3 linked regions of the Homo sapiens genome follow. The protein of the gene in region 2 purifies or fractionates together with the protein of the main gene of each other region. This does not show direct contact. Each region holds a gene or a part of one and is shown on either strand. Other genes may lie near its edges.

What was found. Proteins that work in one complex are often made in the same cells at the same time.
Region 1: the proteins of PNLDC1 (region 2) and DPY19L4 purify together in Homo sapiens (affinity purification with mass spectrometry; 2 studies listed by BioGRID and IntAct, with this or other methods). This does not show direct contact.
Region 3: the proteins of PNLDC1 (region 2) and DIPK1A purify together in Homo sapiens (affinity purification with mass spectrometry; 2 studies listed by BioGRID and IntAct, with this or other methods). This does not show direct contact.

The regions. Positions count from the first base shown.
Region 1 is NC_000008.11:94,715,943-94,723,153, reverse strand, and holds the start of DPY19L4 (probable C-mannosyltransferase DPY19L4), read right to left. Parts: upstream 3,255-7,211; 5' UTR 3,156-3,254; coding exon 3,140-3,155; coding exon of another isoform or gene 2,918-3,139; intron 1-2,917. UniProt on the Homo sapiens protein: Probable C-mannosyltransferase that mediates C-mannosylation of tryptophan residues on target proteins.
Region 2 is NC_000006.12:159,810,120-159,817,405, reverse strand, and holds part of PNLDC1 (poly(A)-specific ribonuclease PNLDC1), read right to left. Parts: intron 5,706-7,286; coding exon 5,620-5,705; intron 3,806-5,619; coding exon 3,750-3,805; intron 1,438-3,749; coding exon 1,373-1,437; intron 864-1,372; coding exon 810-863; intron 298-809; coding exon 255-297; intron 1-254. UniProt on the Homo sapiens protein: 3'-exoribonuclease that has a preference for poly(A) tails of mRNAs, thereby efficiently degrading poly(A) tails.
Region 3 is NC_000001.11:92,846,209-92,853,494, forward strand, and holds part of DIPK1A (divergent protein kinase domain 1A), read right to left. Parts: intron 4,748-7,286; coding exon 4,640-4,747; intron 1,152-4,639; coding exon 975-1,151; intron 1-974.

The DNA.
Region 1 (7,211 bases), on a different chromosome or scaffold from region 2:
GAAAAAGTCAAACTAAATGAAGATGATTACACATCCACAAAAGTAACCTGCTATTTCAGACTTCAGTCCAGTCATCTTCATATGAAACAGTAGGGCTACAAACAGACTTTCAAATGTCTATCCAGGCTAGACATAGCAGTTTCCAAGTGAAATGTTAATACTGCTCTACTCAAGGTTGTCACTTCTTTCTTTGCTCTAACATTGCGTTCAGAAAGCATAAATATAAACACCCTGGCCCTCTACTGCATCAAGGAAGACATTTTTTTAAAGACCAGATTCCCAGAGTATTTACTTGGACAATGAAGAGGATCCAAGTGAATGTGAATGGTAAGCAAGATGGGACGCGGAGAACACCTGGATACAAGTAAAATACACAGACTATTTAGTCTAATTTTAACACAGCGAACAAAAGATAATACGGATTCTGGGGGAAAAAAAGTATAGAGTGACAAATAAACATAAAACACTCAGAATGCCTGGCACATAGACAGACAGGTTTGCTATATGTATTATTATTACTAGCATTATAATAAATGAAAATTTACTCATTCATTGTTGACTATTATATCCTTGCATCTAATAGGGTATGAATACACATATTTATGGAATTAGAAATGTGTTGAATAAAGCAATATTTTAATAAATTACAACCCATTAATTGTCCCATGTAAGATGTATTTAACTGCTTTTGAATTATATGTAATTCTACAACCAAAAATCATTTATCATTTTATTTATTTTATTTTTGAGAGGGAGTCTCACTCTGTCACCCAGGCTGGAGTGCAGTGGGGCGATCTCGTCTCACTGCAACCTCGGCCTCCTGGGTTCCATCGATTCTCTTGCCTCAGCCTCCCGGGTAGCTGGGACTATAGGCATGCGCCACCATGCCCGGCTAACTTTTGTATTTTTTAGTAGAGACAGGGTTTCACCATATTGGCCAGGCTGGTCTCGAACTCCTGACCTCGTGATCCGCCCACCTTGGCCTCCCAAAGTGTTAGGATTACAGGCGTGAGCCACCTTGCCCGGCCTTAATTTTATTTTTTTTTAGATGGAGTCTCACTCTGTCACCCAGGCTGGAGTGCAATGGTGCAATCTTGGCTCACTGCAACCTCCGCCTCCCGGGTTCAAGTGATTCTCCTATCTCAGCCTCCTGAGTAGCTGGGACTACAGACACTTGCCACTCCACCCGGCTGATTTTTGTATTTTTAGTAGAGATGGGGTTTCACTGTGTTAGCCAGGCTGGTCTCGAACTTCTGACTTCAAGTGATCCACTCGCCTTGGCCTCCCAAAGTGCTGGGACTACAGGCATGAGCCATCATGCCCCGCCCATTTATCATTTTACATCACGTAAGTAAAATTTACAAAACGGTACAATCTTTTAATATTGGCTCCACAGATCTATTTAAGTACAACCATAGTCTAAAATAATTTTTCATTTTGCATGATGTATTAAAGACTTTCAGTATTGTAGTACTGATTTTTTAATGCAGTCTTAACTTTTTTAATGCTTTAAGTTAAGCATGAATGTACTCATAGGAACCTACAAGCTAGTATATCAACCTACCCCCATAAATTTGCAATTAGAAAAGAAAAATACATCAAGAAATATTTCAAATGATGATATACTGTAACCACAGACAGAACCAAGTAAACAAATGGAATTACATTCTTTCTCACCAACGACAAATAGCTTTGTTTTTGAAGCTGTTTTTAGTTAGAATGTCTTAAATTCAGACCAGCTTTAACACTCTGAAAACTCAATGGAAACAAATATGAACCAAGCCTGCATAGGGACAGGTCAGCAAGTCACACATCAGTAAACACTTCTTATGCTTAATTTTTAAAAATTGCTTTCCGCTGAATCCTTTAAACTCCTTCCTTGCACTCTTGATTCAGAAAGGCTTGAGTCGGCTGGACCCGTGGCTCACGCCTGTAATCCCAGCACTCTGGGAGGCCGAGGTGGGCGGATCACCTGAGGTCAGAAGTTCAAGACCAGCCTGACCAACATGGAGAAACCCCGTCTCTACTCAAAATATAACATTAACCGGGCGTGATGGCGCATGCCTGTAATCCCAGCTACTAGGGAGGCTGAGGCAGGAGAATCGCTTGAATCCAGGAAGCGGAGGTTGCGGTGAACCGAGATCGCGCCTTTGCACTCTAGACTGGGCAACAAGAACGAAACTCCGTTTCAAAAAAAAAAAAGGCAGGGGGGCTTGAGTCTAAATTAGATCGATTTACTATCACATCCACAGCTCCACTCATAAGGTAAAAAGTTGTGTTTTCCACCAGAATGCAAAAATCTAATTGCTTCTCACTTCCTGAAACTAGTAGGGGTTATCATGAAGTTACTATGCCATGAGTATTCCTTGTATTGTTTATCACTAACCGATAAGTTTCATCTAACTTCCCATTTTTGTCTCATACTTATCATTTTCTATAAATAAAATACTGCTGAATGAATTACTTATCTTAGCATTGATCCTGAAGGCGGCATGGAAACCTTTCTCCAGCTCACCCACTTTGACCCTCAAAGGCCTCCTGGCCTCATCATCTCCCAAAACTATAATAATTAGATGGCTCTGCTCTTTACCATTTTCCCCTGAACCTAAGTGAACTTGGCTTTCTTCAGTTTCTGCGTGTTCGCCCATTCCCAATTAATCTTGCCACGTTTATCCCAAATCCCTGCCTCTTTATCCCCGTGGTGAATGTTCCCTCGCCCCCTGTGCCTCTGGGTTTGTCAATATCCACAGCCCTTTAAAAATCGCATTCCAAATATGCACTGAGTACCTAAACCTGATCTTCGAAACCAAACTGCGCCTCCCACTTCACCAAGAATCTGATCAGGACCCTCCCTCTTTCCCAACCACTCCCGGCACAGCTTTCTCTCTTGCTACGGATTCCCAACTTTCAGCTCCACCTTTGCTTCCCAATTCGGCCGACAAAACTTCGGGCCATTTGCTCCGCTCTCCTGAATTTCTCCGCAGTCCTCTCCTGGGCGCCGCGCTCCTTCCCGCCCTGCCCGCGCGGCCGCCACCGCGACCGCGGCCACCAGCAGCTCCAACCCAGACCTCCAGCGCCCCCGCCCCTCCTTCCCGAGACCACTGGCAGCCGTTGGCGCGCTGGACCCCGCGGCAATCACCTTCTTCCTCCGCCATCGTTTCTGCGAAGGCTAGGGCGCCCTGCGGCTCCCGCGCGGCCCAGACTCTCCCTCCCTCCGCGTCGCCGAACCCCTCGGCCTCCGGGGGCCCGCTCCTGGCCGCCGCGCCCCCACTTCCTGACCCACCCCCCTCCGGTGTCGCCGCCAACCGCGTCCCCGCAGGCGGCCCGGGAACCAGAGTGTTGGGAGAGGGGAGCGGCCGGAGCGTTTCGCTGGGGCGCCGGGGCCTGCGCGGGCAGGAAGGAGACTCCACGCCGGGAGTGCAGCCCACAGCTGTAGCTCCTGGCCGCCGCCTGCCCTGGAAAGCGAGACTGGTGGGTCTCGCTGCAGCCCCGCCCCTCGTCCTACTCTTCCCAAAAAGTGAGGGCATGCTTTCCGCCACTTTTGTGACTCCGCGACTTAGCGAGTCAGAGACGATCATCAGCGACACCTCCCAGGTCCAGCCTCCATTCCCGCCCCATTTTACATGGAGGAAACTCAGATCTAATGTGGTGGAAGTCACAAAGCCGGTCAGAGGCAGAAGTGGAACCCGGTGCTCCAGAACTGCCATCGCTGCCTGCGTTCTCGCTGGGATTTCAGAGTGCAGCAGCAAAACGTTCTCAGTTGGCGCTTTGGTTTCGTAGGCCACTTGACCATTACAAGAAAGAAGCTTGTGCTTGGAACTTGTTTTAAATCACCAAAACTGGTTTAGCAAATATGTTGCATTTCATGATATTCTGGGGGGGGGGGCGGGGAGATAATACAATGGTCTGGGGTAGAGCAGTGTGCAATTAGATATTACAGAGCAATAGGGAATAATTTTAATTTGTTAAACTGTGTTTAACTTTCATTATATCTAGCATTCTTCAACAAACACCGGGATCTTTTCCCCAACAGTACTCAGAAGTAAATTTAGTAAATGAAATATACCCATTTTAGATCGGGAGAAACAGGCACGAGAATTCACTGAAGTCATGGGGTAATTATGGACACCCCATTATTAGCAGGCAGCAAGATTCTCCTAATAGCACCTTTAAGTTAGGATATTTGGGGAGAGGCTATCATTTTTCAGTGATGTGCAGAAACGGTTCCAGGAACTTTTTTTTTTTTTTTTTGAGACAGAGTCTCGCTCTGTCGCCCAGGCTGGAATGCAATGACTCGATCTAGGTTCACTGCAACCTCCGCCTCCCAGGTTAAAGCGATTTTCGTGCCTCGGCCTTCCCAGTAGCTGGGACTACAGGCGCAAGCCACCACTTAATTTTCATATTTTTAGTAGAGATGGGATTTCACCATGTTGGTTGGCCAGGCTAGTCTCCAACTCCTGGCCTCAAGTGATCCGCCCACCTTGGCCCCCCGAAGTGCTGGGTTTACAGGTGCCCACCACCACGCCCGGATAATTTTTTGTACTTTTAGTAGAGAAGTGGAGGGGTGTGGTTTCACCATGTTGCCCAGGCTGGTCTTGAAATCCTGACCTCAAGTGATCCACCGGCCTCAGCCCCACAAAGTGCTGGGATTACAGGCATGAGCTACCACGCAGGGCCTCCAGGAACTCTTTTTATGTCTGGTTCCCCGTAAAGATGTTTTTTGCCTTAAAACAACACTTTACCAGGAGTTAGAAACAGTGGACCAGAAAAGGCCTGGTGCCAGAGCCAAGAGAGCACAGAATATAAGGACCCTGAAAACCACAGGATATGGTAGGGTCCCTGGACATGAGCAACAGTACCTGAGTATGCTGCTTATCAGATCAGCTGACTGAAAGAGCTGCACCTCTTGGAAAACATATAGTAGCTATTGAGGTCTGCTGTTTTCTAAGTCTAGAGTCTTAATATCCTACAGTTTCTTCACGGTCACCTCAAGTTGACTAATGGACTAAATTTTAAGTTTGCCTGACCTCTACAATAACAGGGGAAAGAAAAATGATAGAAAAAAAATAGCTTCTTAAAATAACAAATGGAAATATAAGATAAGATAGAGATAATTATGCCCTAGTAGAAACATTCTTCTCTTGAACCCTAAAAACCCACATTAGGGCCGGGCACGGTGGCTCATGCCTGTAATCCCAACACTTTGGGAGGCTGAGGCAGGTGGATCACCTGAGGTCAGGAGTTCGAGACCAGCCTGACCAACATGGAGAAACCCCATCTCTGCTAAAAATACAAAATTAGCCGGGCGTGGTGGCGCATGCCTGTAATCCCAGCTACTCGGGAGGCTGAGGCAGGAGAATTGCTTGAACCTGGGAGGTGGAGGTTGCGGTGAGCCGAGATCATGCCATTGCATTCCAGCCTGGGCAACAAGAGCGAAACTCCATCACACAAAACAAACAAACAAAAAACACATAAGGATAATGAGAGTGGAGCATCTTATTCTCAAACCAGTGTAATCTTACTGTGAGAAAAATAGGCTGTTTTTATTAAAAATCTATATTTCATTCAAGAAGAATTAGAACCTGAACTACTCAAGATGTTGCCTTGCAGCAGGCATTACAGCTGAGTTTTCAGTAGGCCATTTCCTAATTCCTAAGGCCAGCTGTTTCCAGATGGCTAGTGGACATATGGTTGTAAGATGATTTCAGACGATACTCTGATTGTTTTATCACTGCAAAACCATGGGCTGCTAGTTTCTTATGCAAGATGTGAAGGAGCATTTCATTACATTTTGCGTCACCCTGACCAGTCCTAAAGAACCCAAATTTTCCCAAATTGTCTTTTACTTATGAGCTATTCAAAGAGCCGTGTGATTTTCCGCCTTCTCTAGAAGTTTGAGGACCTCTTCTCTATGCAATGGATATTTTAAGGACATAATGTGAAATGTTCTTTGTTTTAAAAAGTTAAGTCTTTAGCAAATGTAGTTTAGGAGGCTTTTATAGTAAACTGAGTAAGAAAATAAAGGCCTGGTATGAGGCAATGAAAATAAAAATGTTCAAAGAGAATGAATTCAAAAGATGCTGGAAATGAAATCTACAGGGCCTGATGACAAATTGGATGTGATAAATGATGAGTCGAACATGATTTCTGATATTTCCATCTTGAAATTAATCATGTGCTTTCCATGTTCCCAGGAAAAAGTGCTGCCAAGATGTAAGAACAATATAAAACAGAAGGCCTTAAAACTTCTCTACTTGAAACCAAAAAAATACATGCAGTCTATTTTTAAAACATTCTTCTGAGGCTGATCGAGGTGGCTCATGCCTGTAATCCCAGCTTTTTGGGAGGCCAAGGCCGGCAGATCGCTCGAGCCCAGGAGTTCAAGACCAGCCTTGGCAACATGGTGAAGCCCCGCCACTACTAAAAAATACAAAAAATAGCTGGGCATGGTGGCGTGCACCTGTAGTTCCAGCTACCTGGGAGGCTGAGGTGGGAGGATCACCTGAGCCAAAGAGGTTGAGGCTGCAGTGAGCTGTGATCAAGCCACTGCACTCAAGCCTGGCTGAGAATGAGACCCTGTCAAAAAAACAACAGCAGCAAAAAAACAAAAAACAAGAAACATTATTCTGGCATATGCTTCACCTCATTAGTAGTAAAAGAACATAATTAGTTAGAAATCCTTGTGTCGGTTCAGCTTCTATGAAAGATATGGAATTGTGTTTCATCTTTATTATGTAATAAAATATTAATTATCTGTTGATTAAAATCTTTTTTTTTTTTTTGAGACGGAGTCTCACTCTGTCATCTAGGTTGGAGTGCAGTGGTTCGATCTCGGCTCACTGCAACCTCTGCCTCCCGGGTTCAAGCAATTCTCCTGTCCCAGCCTTCCGAGTAGCTGGGACTACAGGTGCCTGTCACCACGCCCAGCTAAGTTTTTTCTATTTTTAGTAGAGATGGGGTTCACCTGTCCCAGCCTCCTGAGTAGCTGGGACTACAGGTGCCTGTCACCACTCCCAGCTAAGTTTTTTCTATTTTTAGTAGAGATGGGGTTTACCACGTTGGTCAGGCTTGTCTCGAACTCCTGACCTCAGGTGATCCGCCCACCTTGGGCTCCCAAGTGGCTCCTGCCTGTAATCCCGGTGGCTCATGCCTGTAATACCAGCATTTTGGGAGGCGGAGGCGGGCGGATCACCTGAGGTCAGGAGTTCAAG
Region 2 (7,286 bases):
TCCTGACATCTGCGGGGATGAGGGGGCCAGGACCCATACAGGCAGGCACAGGGGTGGTAGGAAGGGCTACTCCTGTGGCACAGAGCCATTTGTGGGCTGCTGCCCAGTCAGGGACAAGATTTCTATACCAGTGACACCTCACATTCTCCCTTCTTTGGTAGAACCCTGGGACTGGAGAGGTGTTGGCTTCCAGCAAGGGCTCAATAAATCCTGACCACCGATTGAACAGTAGGATGAAAAGAAAGAACACTTACTGGTATATCTTCTGTAGAAGCAAGTGTGCCACTTTCAAAAGAACTAGGAAGGAAAAAAGACAGAAATGCAATAGAGCTTATCAAAATGTGCATGCTTATGCTTTATCTCATTATGTGCAAGCCAATCTGAAATAAATGTAGAATCTAGGGACGGCAGGGGCATACTGCCAACAAAAAGTAAGTCTCCAGCTGGGTGTGGTGGCTCATGCCTGTAATCCCAGCACCTTGGGAGGCCGAGGCGGGTGGATTGCTTGAACCCAGGAGTTTGAGACCAGCCTGGGCAGCATGGTGAAACCCCATCTCTACAAAAAATACAAAAATTAGCCAGGTGTGGTGGCATGCACCTGTATTCCCAGCCAGGCATGGTGGCATGCACCTGTAGTCCCAGCTACTCGGGAAGCTGAGGTGGGAGGATCACCTGAGCCCAGGAGGTAGAGGCTGCAGTGAGCCGAGATCCTCACCACTGTACTCTAGCCTGGGCAACAGAGTGAGACCCTGTCTCAGAAAAAAAAAAAAAAAAAGTGAGTTTCCTTTTAAAGGAACCGCAATCCTTACCTGACCCACAGAGGAAGGCATCATACGCGGCTTCGTGGGGGCACTTTGTCTCAACTGAGGCATTTTCCACCAGGAGGACAGAGAATTGAGCAGTCATTAGAAACACGCCCCATCCTAGCTCACCATCCACAGTGGCTGCAGCTCATACAACCTCCCATGGTCCTGCATACCCTTCTCCAGGCCCACACACCAACTTCACCTTGGTCCTCCCCACGGTGGAGAAAGCCCCAAGATCAGAGCTGCCTTATAGACTAAGGACCACATTAAGGAGGAAATGGACAACTCCCAGGGCTCTTGGATGCATTCTGGGCTCGCTCATTTGGGGCAGGAGTTACATGGAGTAAGCAGAGTGAAGGAAAACCCCACACAAACCTCCCCCTCCCCTGCTGCCTGGGGCGGGGCAGGGGGAGAGGTGGGGGGGAGGGGAGGGGTGTGGGGGGGTGGGGAGGGGTGTGGCGGGTGGGTGGGGAGGGGTGTGGGGGAACCAGGGTCAAGGACAAGCTCAGCTGAGCACCTCAGCACTCTGCCGACTGTGCAAGGATTATGGGCTCATGGGAACGTACCATATTTCTCACACCTGCTCGCGTGAACAATCTCTGGTCCAGAATTCTTGGTGGGATTCAAGTCACTATTGGAAAAGAAAAATAGAATAAAAAACAATTTGCTGAAAGTAATCCCTTCTTGTATTCCCCCTCAGTCCCTTAAGTTAATATAAATTTTTTAAATGTACTGAGGACATATCTTTAAGGTGCAAATCTAAGCATGGACAGGTAAGATCTTAGTAACTGGGCAACAGGAAAGGGGAAAGAACAATGGTGCAGGAGGCCCCAGTGGAGTTACTCCAGGCATTTATCAAATGCTTCACTTGAGCCCAGGCACCAAGATAGACAAGATACTGTCTCTGTCCTCCGGAGCTGTCTAGTGGCCTGTCTAGCGACTACGGAGACAATTATGCCTGCCTCTTGTAAATGCAAGGCCTGAGGCATGACAGTCACGCCAGGACCCTGCAGGCTTCTGGAGGCAGACAGCACTCATGGAGAGTCCCAAACCACATGATCCAATGGAGTTCAAGGAATGGGGAGACGGCAGGCATTTCGAGCAGGCAAAGACAGTGAGGAAAAGGAGGAGGTCTGACCCCAGAAGCAGTGAGCTGAGAAGTGGGGCTGAAGCCTTTGTGTGAAGGGAGGGCCAAGAGGGTGGGGAGGAGCCCCTACAACAGGCAGGGGCTTCAGAAACCACAGAAAGACTGATCAGAAAAAAGAGCCCATTCAAATTCACATTCTAGATCATCACTCAAGGGGCGGTGTGGGGTATGAAGAGGGCAGGCCACAAGGCTGGGACACCACTCAGGGGCTACTACCACAGTTCCTTGGTTGGAATGAAAAGACAATAATCCTGAGAATGCAGAGAAAGGAGAGGTTTGAGAGACTTACAGGGTCAAGTCCATAAAACTTGACTCAACAGATGTGAGCAACTCAGCTCTGTGACCCCTTCTAGGTCTTGGCTCCAGGACCTGGGTGAATGGAGATGGTGTGTGACAAGGAAACCTTTGCTTCACTGGTTTTCAATAAGATGTTCTGGAACCTCACGTGCTTAGCCTCCTGACCCCTAATGTCCCCATCTGTAAAACAGGCGTCGTCGTCGTGGGTGTGCCATGAGCTGTCCTTTAGGATTGGGATAGTTGTCAACAGCAGCTAAGGTTCAACAGACCTGGACTACATGCAAGGGGCTGTTCTAAGTCCTTCCACATCTACAAACTCATTTAATCCTCACAACAACCTTGGAGTTACACACTATTTTCTCATCTCACAGATAGTTAAACTGAGGCACAGAGAGATTAAGTAATTCTCTCAAGGTCACTCACAGAACCAGTGAGTGGCAAAGCTGGGATTTAAACCCAGGAAGCCTGGAATCAGAGCCTGTGCATTTACAACAAAGCTCTCTCCCCGCTTTGCCCTCTCATGCACACACAGCCCTCAGTATCATGCCTGGTACCATCAAGACTTCTGAATTTGCAGGCACTAGAGTGTGCTTGAGGGACAGAGAGGAGGGTCAAGTTGAAGGTGCCCATAGGTCATGTAGGGTGGGAACATCAAGAAGACAGCTGGTAAACGCAGTGTCCTAGATGCTGAGGTCTGGACCGCAGCGGTACACAGGAGCTGGGAGTTGAAGCCCAGGGGGTGGATGAGGCCACATGGGAGCCTAGGAATGAGCAGGAACACGGTTGAGGAGGGGCCCTTGAGAGAAAACGTAGGAGACAGGTAGAGAACACGAATCACAAGGAATGGGTTTTAAAAAATCGCACACACACATCCAGAACAGGGTGCCATCCCTGTTCCAAACGCCTCTCGTGCCTCGTCCTGCTGACTGGGGACAGACTGGCGGCTCTGGGTGCCCCTGCGGAGAGCAGAGTGAAGGAGACAAGGCCCTGCCTGCCGTGGGCTGAGGAAAGAGGAGCATAGAGAGTTCAGGAGGCTTTGTCGTTAAGTTGGGAGAACACTTGTTGATGTGGAAGGAAATGAGAGGGAGACAGAAAGAGGTGGAGACACCCCGGGAAGGGGCAGGTAGGGGTGGGGAGTTGCTGAGCAGGGGTGAAGGTGACGAGTAGGTGGCAGCTCCTCCTGCCTGGCCTTGCACAGGGAAGGTGCTCCATTTGCTGGTGACAGGGGCGAGACAATGAAAAAGGGGACAGTAATCGCGCAACTGTTTGAGGGGCAGGGGTTGAGAGATTTCCTGTCTCTGGCTTCTCTCTCTTTGGAAACGGAGGCAAGAGGGTCATCGGAGGAAGGGGGCCATGAAGCAGGAGGAGCTGGAGGAGACCAAGTCCCAAGCAGGCATCACTGTGAATGGTGGGCACGCCTAGAGAGCCCAAAGGCCTGCGGAGCACAGGGAGGCCACCAAGGCCGCTCCAGCAGTAGCTCCAGGAATCGCCGTCCTCACCTGTTCAGGACTTCATAGACTTCCGAAAGATTCGACACCCTCGGGAAATTCATCTCCTACAATCATGGAAAACAAACCAGAGGAAAACATTTGCGCTTTTGTTTATTCTCTGTTTCAGGCAGTACCAAATGGTCATTAAAATGGCCTGGAAAATGCTCACTCCTACAACCTCCTCTTTCTCTTCAAATGGTGCAACCATCCTTATTCCTTAGTTAGGATGTCAGGGTACGCAGTATTCCTGGGTTTCCTAGAAGGACTCTCAAAAACCTAGGCTAGAAAAAAACTCTACACACACTATCTCCCTTAGAAAATGTGTTCAACAGATTACCCATAAACACAGGAAAGCAAGGCACGAGGACAAAGGCCAGGGACATACATGGAGCATACAGGCATTCTAAGGCCTAGAGGGCTTTGGGGCAATGCCTGGTTACTAAATCCTAAAAGTTCATAGTAGCTGGAAATACACCAACTACAAATAATAACAGCCTCTGGGCAAAGACAGACCACAGACCCCACTCCCATCTGTGCGGCATCCTTGCTGGATAATTCACTTGTAAGGGATCACTCTAAGGCTTCACAAGATTGATCTGATGCCCCCTTCTCTGTTCTTCAGTTGTTGTTTTTTTTCCCCTTGAGACAGGGTCTTCCTCTGTTGCCCAGGCTGGAATACAGGGGTGCAATCTCGGCTCACTGCAATCTCCACTTCCCGGGCTTTAAGTGATCCTCCCACTTACGCCTCCCAAGTAGCCAGGACTGGAGGTGTGCACCAACATGCCCAGGTAATTTTTGTATTTTTTGTAGAGATGGAGTTTCACCCATGTTGCTCAGACTAGTCTCAAATTCCTGGGCTCAAGCCATTCACCCACCTCAGCCTCCCAAAATGCTGGGATTACAGGTGTGAGCCACTGTGCCTGGCTATTCTCAGCTTCGTTTCTAAGCAGCATTTAAACCAGTCAGGTCGCTTTTCTCTATGCATAGTACACAGCCTCGACTCCACAACAGAATCACCCAGGGAGCTTTAGAAATACCACCTGGCCCCACTCTAGGTCAGACAAAAAGCTGCCAGTGCAGCCTGGCTATCAGCATTTTCAACTTTCCACGTGATTCCAACATGTTTTCAGGACTGAGAACCCATGACTGGAGGGCTCAATGAAGAAGAGGTTTTCTCAAGATTCTTCAGGAGGGAACCCCCTCCCCCCCAGTGCTCTGTACACATGTTGCAAATATTCCTAAGGCATGCATCAAGTTCTAAAATAAGTTGTTCTGTTGTCTGATCTAAATAAGCACAAAAACTCTACACAAATAAGTCAAAATGTGGAAACTGGAGGGAGAGAAAGGGAATAAGTCATATATAAGCTAATACAATGATGCACAGGTGCCAAAATACAAAAGGAAACTGATACTGGTTTGAAGAGAGAAAAGCAATCAAGGAACAACTTTAAAAAACACAAGTGGCAGGCCGGGCGCAGTGGCTCACCCCTGTAATCCCAGCACTTTGGGAGGCCGAGGCGGGTGGATCATGAGGTCAGGAGATCAAGACGATCCTGGCTAACATGGTGAAACCCCGTCTTTACTAAAAATACAAAAAAATTAGCAGGGCATGGTGGTGCGCACCTGTAATCCCAGCTACTCAGGAGGCTGAGGCAGGAGAATCGCTTGAACAAGGGAGTCAAAGGTTGCAGTGAGCTGAGATCGCGCCATTGCACTCCAGCCTGGCTTTGAGAGCAAGACTCCCTCTCAAACAAAACAAAACAAAACAAAACAAAACAAAAAAAACAAAAAAACACAAGAAAAAAACCCCACAAGAGAAAGCTAAGTGTTACTGGTATGGAAAAAGCAGTTCTTAACCCAAAGCAGTTCTATTCATTACCTTCCAGATATCCTTTGTTACACTCTTGGTATCAATGAGAACAGGAAATAGGCTGTGGATATTCTGCTTAAATTGATCGTAGCTTTCTGAGGGGAAAAACCCAGGTAGTCAAGAGTGAATTTGTTTGTTGGCAAAAATGGGAAGGAACATTCTTGAACCTAGCTTGCCACTGGCACTGATTAATAAAGCAAACTGAAACAAAACAGGAATTGAAAACACCATTAATCCTAGCCACTAAGGATTTCTAAACTCAGATCAAGCTGCCATCACCACTTTTAATAGTAAAGGCCGAACGGTTTTCTATTAAATTCAGGATGCATTCTATTGCCAACCGTAGTTAATGTAGTTTGCGAAGCTCTAGCCGATGGGATAAGACTTAAAAATAGAAGTATTATCAGAAAGGCAGACATGATATCATTTGTAAATAATTGCTCAGAGAAAAATCCAAGAAAAAAAATCAAAAATTATAACTAGTAAAGTGTCCTGATAAAAGAAAATTTATGCAAGAACTCAGTTGGTAAAGTTATCAGTTATACCTGCACCTAAAGAGGTTTATTGCAAAACACACACACTAAAAACAAAACCCTGTGATCTCTTCCCGCTACTCTCCCATTTCCTACTCCCCAAAGGCAACCACTCGCAGTTCTTTTCCTTTTGGTATTTATTCCCATCTCTCTCGCACATGCATGGTGTGGTGTTAGACACCTCACTCCCGACCTCCCACCGGCTGAGAGGGTGATGACCCCTCTCATTCCACCTCCACACACATGCCCGTATCGCCCCACGCGCGTCATTCACAAAAGGCTCTGTGGTGGCTACAATGACTTCTCCTTTCTTGCACAGCTTTTGTTCTCCCAGCGCTTATTTTGTTGTACTTAGTTTTTTGGTGAATGTGTATTATTAATTTCACTGCTAATTCTCCAACTCTCTCAATATGCCCAAACTCAGGTGTTTCATTGTTTCTTGGGGAAATGGCTCCTAAAACTTTCTTACCCCTCGTAATCTAGACTAGTGTTCTTTGTACGTTTATTAATTCATTTAATCTCACAACTCTGATATTGGCACTATTATCCCAATCTTACAATTAAGGTAATGTCAACTCGCTGGAGACTACGCACGTAGTGAGTGTGGGATGGATGAGATCACCAAGGCTCGAGGCCCCACTTTACCCACTAGGCTGCACCACTGAATGTCCAATAATGGAATCAACCATGAAACAGTAGGGGACAGCCAGAAGACAGTGTCACATGACACTGAAGCAGCATTTATTAGGTTTTTAACAACATAAAATAATGCTTTGGGTAAGTGGAAAAAAAGCCAAACAAAAATCAAATAGTGTAATCAAATATGTAAAAATTCAGGATACTAGCTGATTAAAGGTGACTTCTGACTTCATGCATTTCTGATTTTGCCAAGCTTCATACAATAACTCTGAACAGCTTCAGTAATGGGGAGAGGGGTATCAATTCAAATTTAAATTTTTTCCCCCTTGACAAAGTCTCCTGGTTTTCCACTCTGGGGAGACAGTAACAGATCAGAGTACAGGCCTCTGCCCAAACTCTCCAGAAACCTGCAGACACTGGGGAGGAATGGGCATTTTAGGAGCTGCCTCAGGGGTATGATTGTGTACCAATCCCTCTGCCAGATGGCAAACTAGCGTGAAGGAA
Region 3 (7,286 bases), on a different chromosome or scaffold from region 2:
ATATTTCAATACACACATACAATTTGTAATGATCAAATCAAGGTAATTAGCATATTTATGTCTCAGTTATCATTGTGTTGTGAACATTCACAATCCTTTTAGTTTTTTGAAAATAACCAAAAATTATTAATCCCTTTACCCTATAGTGCTATAGAACACTAGAACTTATTCTGCCTATCTAGCGGTAATTTTGTATCTGTTAACCAACCTCTCCTTATTCTCCTCTCCTCTGTACCCTTCCCAGCCTCTAATAGCCACAATTCTAAGAGTATACTCATTTTATTTCACCTTTTTTGAATTAATTTTCATGTCAAACTGTACAGCACTCCAATTAATTAATGAACTCCCTCCTCATATCTGGACATTTTTAGCTATCATAAATAATGTTAAAGTAAACATTCTCCAACACAGATTTCTTTTCTTTTTCTTTTTTTTTTTGAAACAGGGTCTCACTTTGTCGTCCAGGCTGGAGTGCAGTGGTGAGATCTTGGCTCACTGCAACCTCGACCTCCCAGGCTCAAGCAATCCTCGCACCTCAGCATCTCAAGTAGTTAGGACTACAGGCACATGCCACCACTCCTGGCATATATATATATATATATATATATATATATATATATATATATATATATATGTGTGTATATATATATGTGTGTATATATATATATATATATACACACACACGTATATATATATATACGTGTATATATATATATATATAGCTGAGGTCTTACTATGTTGCCCAGGCTGGACTTGAACTCCTGGGCTCAAGTGATCCTCCTGCCTTGGCCTCCCAAAGTGCTGGGATAACAGGCGTGAGCCACCACGCCCGGCCTCTTATAATTATTTCCTCAGGATGGAGAATCTGATAGAGGTCAAAGAATATCAACACTTTAATGGCTTAGGATGAGGTCCTGCCAATTCCTCTAAAGAGTCCCACTTCACACTAGCAACATATGAATGGGTATGCTTACCTTAAAGAGACTATAGACCATTTCTTTAAATTTTTGTACAGTAGTTCCTCTAGTTGGCTTATCAAATAGCACTATTTCTTTTCTTGGTTCCAATTCAGTTCCAAAATCAAGATGAAGCGCTTGTTCCATTTGACATTTCACAACACCTGGTAGATTATCCCAAATCCCTAAATACATCTATGTAAAAAAGAGTGGCAAGTTATGTATTATACTGAGTAGAAAACTCTAAAAAATATACTACTATATTTTTAGGGTCCTCCTCCTCTGAACAAAACAAAACAAGCATCAAACATTGAGGTTAAGGTGTGACTTTATTTCTGAACTGCAAACTTGAAATCACACTCAAGATTTTTTCCTTAAACTAATTTTTTAAATTATAAGAGTAATGCATGCCTAAATATATTTTTCAAAAAGTCCAATGAGAAGGATGTAAGGCAAAAGCAAAGTTCCCAGACATTCTACTTCCATAATCCCACTTCCCCAGAATTAACTACTATTTAAGTATCTAGTTATTTATCAAACTAATATTATATAGTGTTAACTATGTCCTATGGTCTACTAATTTATTTTAGAGACAGGGTCTTGCTTTGTCACCCAGGCTGGGGTTCAGTGGCATAATCATAGCTCATTGCAGCCTCAAAGTCCTGAGCTCAAGGAATCTTCCTGCCTCAGTCTCCCAAGTAGCCAGGACTATAGGCATGTACCACTAAACCTGGCTAATTAAAAACATTTTTTGTAGAGATGGGGTCTTGCTGTATTGCTCAGGCTGGTCCTGAACTGCTAGCCTTAAGTGACCCACCTGCCTCAGCCTCTCAAGTTGCTGGGATTGTAGGTATGAGGCACCACACCTGGCTTTTACTGATTTATGTTATTATTTTAATCCTTGTACCAATCTTAGGTGGTAGGTACTATCATTATACTTATTTCACTGATGGGGAAACTGAAGCAGATACAGGTGAAGTAACATGCTGAAAAGAGCTGAGGTCTTTACCACTAGGATAGGTTGCCCCTCTTCTACATAAAAAAATAAATAAGATCATATTCATTCTTAATATTAATCCAAAGAAAACATTATTTCACTGCCTTGCTCCAAACCCTCTAATAAATTCCCCTTTCAATTAAAGTCCAAAGTCCTTTCCATGACCGGTTGGGCTCCATTTGAGCTAGCCTCGCCTATGTCTCCAACCTGATCTTGTACCACGTACTCCGTTTCTCAAAGTCCCAGCTACACTGGTCTTTCTGTGACAGGTTGAAGCTTGTTTCTGCTTCCTGACCTGCTTCACTTGCTGCTGGCTCTGCCTGGAATGTACTCTCCCAGATCTTCACATGGCTGGCTCCTTTACATCATTCAAGTCTCAGATTAGACATTGCATTTAGAAAGCCTTCCCTGACCCCCTGTCTAGAAGAGATCCTCTTCCACCCCCAGGTCACCTCTAACCCTGTTTCATTATCCTCATAGCCTTTTGCACTGTCTAAAATTATCATATTTATTTATTTATCAGTTCATTACTATCTGTCTCATCTCACATTAGAACATGAGGCCAGAGGCTTTATCTGTCTCCCTCAGTGCCTCAAACAGTGCCTGGCATGCAGGAGACACTCAAATGTTGGACTTTGTTTTAGAAATTGTCTTTAACATGATTAATACTGTCAACTGAAAAATTAGTTTAAATTTCTATAATAATAATGCATATTTATATAGGAAAATTTAGGAACCATAAGATGAACATTAAAATGCAATTTTCCACTGCTCCAGATGTTTCGTTGTATTTTCTTCTACCCCAATTAGATATTCTACTGTTTTATTCTTATTTCTCTGATGAAAAGTAAGGTAGAATTTTTTTTCATTATGTTCATCAGCTGTTTGCAGTTCTTTTGTGATTTAGTTCATCCTGTCCTTTTCCCATGCCTATGAATTTTTTATTAAGGTATAAGTTCAAATATTATTTCAGAAAGGTCTTCTCTGATCACATCCTCTAAAGCACTTCTCACCATCCCTTACACTGCATTCTCTATCAATTTGCCCTCTGTGTCTCCTACAGAACACACCATATTCTACAATTATTTTGTTTGTTTATTTATTTATTTATCAACTGTTTGTACCTCCTGTCCCTCTGGAATCATGTAAGGTCTGTAAGGGAAGCAATCTTGTCTGGTTTTTTTTTGTTTTTTTTTTTTTTTTTGAGACAGGGTGTCACTCTGTCACCCAGGCTGGAGTGCAGTGACATGAACACGGCTCACTGCAGCCCTGACCTCCTGGGCTCAAGTGATTGTCCCACCTCAGCCTCCCGAGTAGCTGGGACCATAGGTGTGTGCCACCACACCCAGCTAATACATATATATTTTTTGAGACAGTCTCGCTCTATTGTCCAGGCTGGAGTGCAGTGATGTGAGATCTTGGCTCACTGGAACCTCCGCCTCCCAGGTTCAAGCGATTCTTGTGCCTCAGCCTCTGGAGTTGCTGGGATTACAGGCATGTGCCACCACACCCGGCTAATTTTTTGTGTTTTTAGTAGAGAGGGGGTATCGCAATGTTGCTCAGGTTGGTCTTGAATGCCTGGCCTCAAGTGACCTACCGCCTCAGCCTCCCAAAGTGCTGGGATTACAGGTGTATGCCACTGTGCCTGGCCACCCAGCTAATTTTTGTATTTTTTGTAGAGACAGGGTTTTGCTATGTTGCTCAGGTAGGCCTCAAACTCCTGGACTAAAGCAATCCACCCACCTTGGCCTCCTGAAGTGCTGGGATTACAGGCCCGTGCCACGGGCCCGGCTGTTTGTATTTTTTTATTTTTATTTTTTATTTTTTGAGACACTCACTCACTCTGTCACCCAGGCTGGAGTGCAGTGGTGGGACCATAGCTCACTGCAGCCTCAACCTCCTGGGCTCAAGCAATCTTCCCACTTCAGCCTCCTGAGTAGCTAGAACCACAGGTGTGTGCCACCACACCTGGCATTTTTTTTAAATTTTGGAGAGACAGGGTCTCACTACATTGCCCAGGCTGGTCTCAGACTCCTGGGCGCAAGTGGTCCTCCCATCTCAGCCTCCCAAAGTGTTGGGATTACATGCGTGAGCCACCGCACCAGGTTGCCTTAATCACCATTGTATTCCTGGTAACTGAAACAGCATCTAACATCAAAGTGCTGACAGAAAAAAAAAAACAAAACAAAACAGTGTCTGGAATATACTGGGGATAGATTAATAAATATCTTTTGACTGGCCAGGTGTGGTGGCTGACATCTATAATCCCAGCACTTTGGAAGGCCAAGGCGGGTGGATTGCTTGAGCTCAGGAGTTCGAGACCAGCCTGGGCAACATGGCGGGACTCTGTTTCTACAAAAATACAAAAAATTAGCCAAGTGTGGTTGTGTGAGCCTGTAGTCCCAGCTACATGGGAGGCTGAGGTGGGAGGCTCACTTGAGCCTGGGAAGTGGAGGTTGCAGTGAGCAGAGATCTCACCACTGTACTCCAGCCTGGACAACAGATCCTGTCTCAAAAAATTAAAATAAAATAAATGTCTGTTTAATGAATGAATCAAAGCATACAAAATTGAAATACATATAATGTCTCAAAGCTTTGGTTCAAGAATTCTTTTAATAATGCCTTTAATTTCTGGTAAAATTAGAGTACACTATAATTCTGGAATGTTTATTCATAATGGCCATACCTGATTGTTGGGCTTGGTGGATAAACATTTTCCAAAGTAAAGAGTTTCTGTAACACAAAGGCTGTTACATGCAGGCCCATCAATAACTCCAGTCTTGTACTTGTCACACTAAAAACCAGGAAATAAAAAAGTAGTTAATAGAAAAATATTCACAAGAAGAAGCATAAAGAGATATCTATATCCTTTATGAGTAAGTTCTATGACAAAAAGAACTGAGGCTTTGGACTTAGACAGACCTGGATTTGATCTAAGCTCTGTTACTTATACCTATATGATTATGAGAAAGCTTGTTGCTGCTGGGGTGTGCGTAGAATTTTGAAACTATTTTTCCCACATGACATGGTCTAAGGTGGTATGTTACCTACTCCTTCCAAGAATAGAGGCACTCTATCTTTAAAAATGGTTCCGGTTTTAGGCCAGGCACCGTGGCTCACGCTTGTAATCCCAGCACTTTGGGAGGCCGAGGCTGGTGGATCATTTGAGGTCAGGAGTTCGAGACCAGCCTGGCTAACATGGTGAAACCCCATCTCTACTAAAATAAAAAAATGAGCCAGGCGTGGTGGCGGGCGCCTGTAATGCCAGCTACTCGGGAGGCTGAGGCAGAAGAATCACTTGAGCCTGGGAGGCAGAGGTTGTGGTGAGCCGAGATCATGCCACTGCACTCCAGCCTGGGTGAGAGAGTGAGACCCTATCTCAAAAAAAAAAAAAAAAAAAACTTCTGGTTTTAAAATAAATAAAGTTTAGAATAACAAAATAAAGTTACCTCTGTCACATTGTCATCCTTGAGATCACCCAAAAACAAGAAAGGGAAAAAAACCCATCCACTCTCTGAAAAAATATGGTACCAATGAAACCCTAGGCACAATAAATGAGGATGACCTGCCAAATTCAGTGAAGATTACACCAGAGCCTACAAGTATGCTGAGATTAAACACCTGCTGTGGTCCCCACTCTCAGACAAAGTTGGCAGAGCACCAAGTAGGTGGTACATCTGCAGAGCACAACCATTATCCTGGTTGCAACAAAGATTTAAGGGGCACAAGCTGTGGGAACTTCCCAGAACTCTATTTGGCACCATGAAATAGTAAGATAAGACAGGCCTGAATGATAAAATGCTCAGAAATGTTCTCTTTGCTGGAGGCAGTCTGTTGATGAACTACGGTTGGGAGAGAGGGCCAGAAGCAGCTTCACTACCAGCTCAGTTCACTGCCCAGTTGCTTCCCGCACATGGCTGGCTGAAGGAGACCTCATTTCACTCAGTAATGAGTAATAATCAAAACCAAACAAGCAAAAGATCTATACAGCAAATCTACAAGAATTAGGAAGAATGGAATAGGAAAAGCAAATGTCAGATAAAAAAAATTTTCTAGGCAGGGTGCAGTGGCTCACGCCTATAATCCCAGCACTTTGGGGGGCCGAGGCAGGTGGATCACCTGAGGTCAGGAGTTCGAGACGAGCCTGACAAACATGGAGAAACCCCGCCTCTACTAAAAATACAAAATTAGCTGGGCGTGGTGGCGCATGCCTGTAATCTCAAGTATTCAGGAGGCTGCGGTGGAAGAGTCGCTTGAACCCTGCGGGGGCGGAGGTTGCAGTGAGCCGAGATCACACCATTGCACTCCAGCCTGGGCAAGAAGAGCGAATCTCCGTCTCAAAAAAAAAGAAAAAAATTTCTAGAAGAATGTTGCTATGAAACAGACCAAACATATTGTTATGAATTTAAAGGACTTACTGAACCAGTTTAAAATAAGACTTCAAAGCAGAAGAAATGATGAGGCAATAGAAGGAAGTTTAAAATAAGCTAACAGAACTCAGACAGGAAGGAAAATAAAACATCTAGAAATAAAAGCCACATTATAAATGAGGGGAAAGACAGACAGGGATAAAACACAGTAAGATTTAGGAGGACTAGGCCAGGCGTGGTGGCTCATCCCTGTAATAACAGCACTTTGGGAGGCTGGGCAGGCAGATCGCTTGAGCTCAGGAGTTCAAGAGCAGCCTGGGCAATACAGCAAGACCCCATCTCTACAAATAATACAAAAGAATTAGCTGGGTTTGGGGGCACATATATGTAGTACTAGCTACTTGGGAGGCTGAGGTAGGAGGATCGCTTTAGCCTGGGAGGCAGAGGTTGCAGTGAGCCAAGATCACACGACTGTACTCCAGCCTGGGTGACAGAGTGAGACCCTGTCTTAAACAAACAAAAACAATAACAACAACAAAAAACTTTGGAGGACAAGGTTGAGAAATGCAAGCAAAATGAAATGGAAATTTAAAAATAATAAAATGAATTTAAGATAAATGTATAGATAAAAAAGACAAAGTATATCCACCATGTCCATATGAAGGAGAATGGGAACTGAAGGAGAATGGGAACAAGTGGAAAAGAAAAAATATTCAAAGTAGAATTCAAGGGAAACTTCACATAAATTAAAACACTTTAATCTATAGATTGAAAGGACATACAATGAATGTCCCAAGAAAAACTGACAAGAATGACCCCTGTGACATATCCCACTGAGGTTCACTGGACTTCAAAAATAAGTTATCCTTTGAGCATCCAGGCAAAAAGATCAAGGCACCTTTAAGGGGAAACCAATCAGATTGGCCCCAGATTTCTCCATAGCCACATTCAATAGTAGACAAC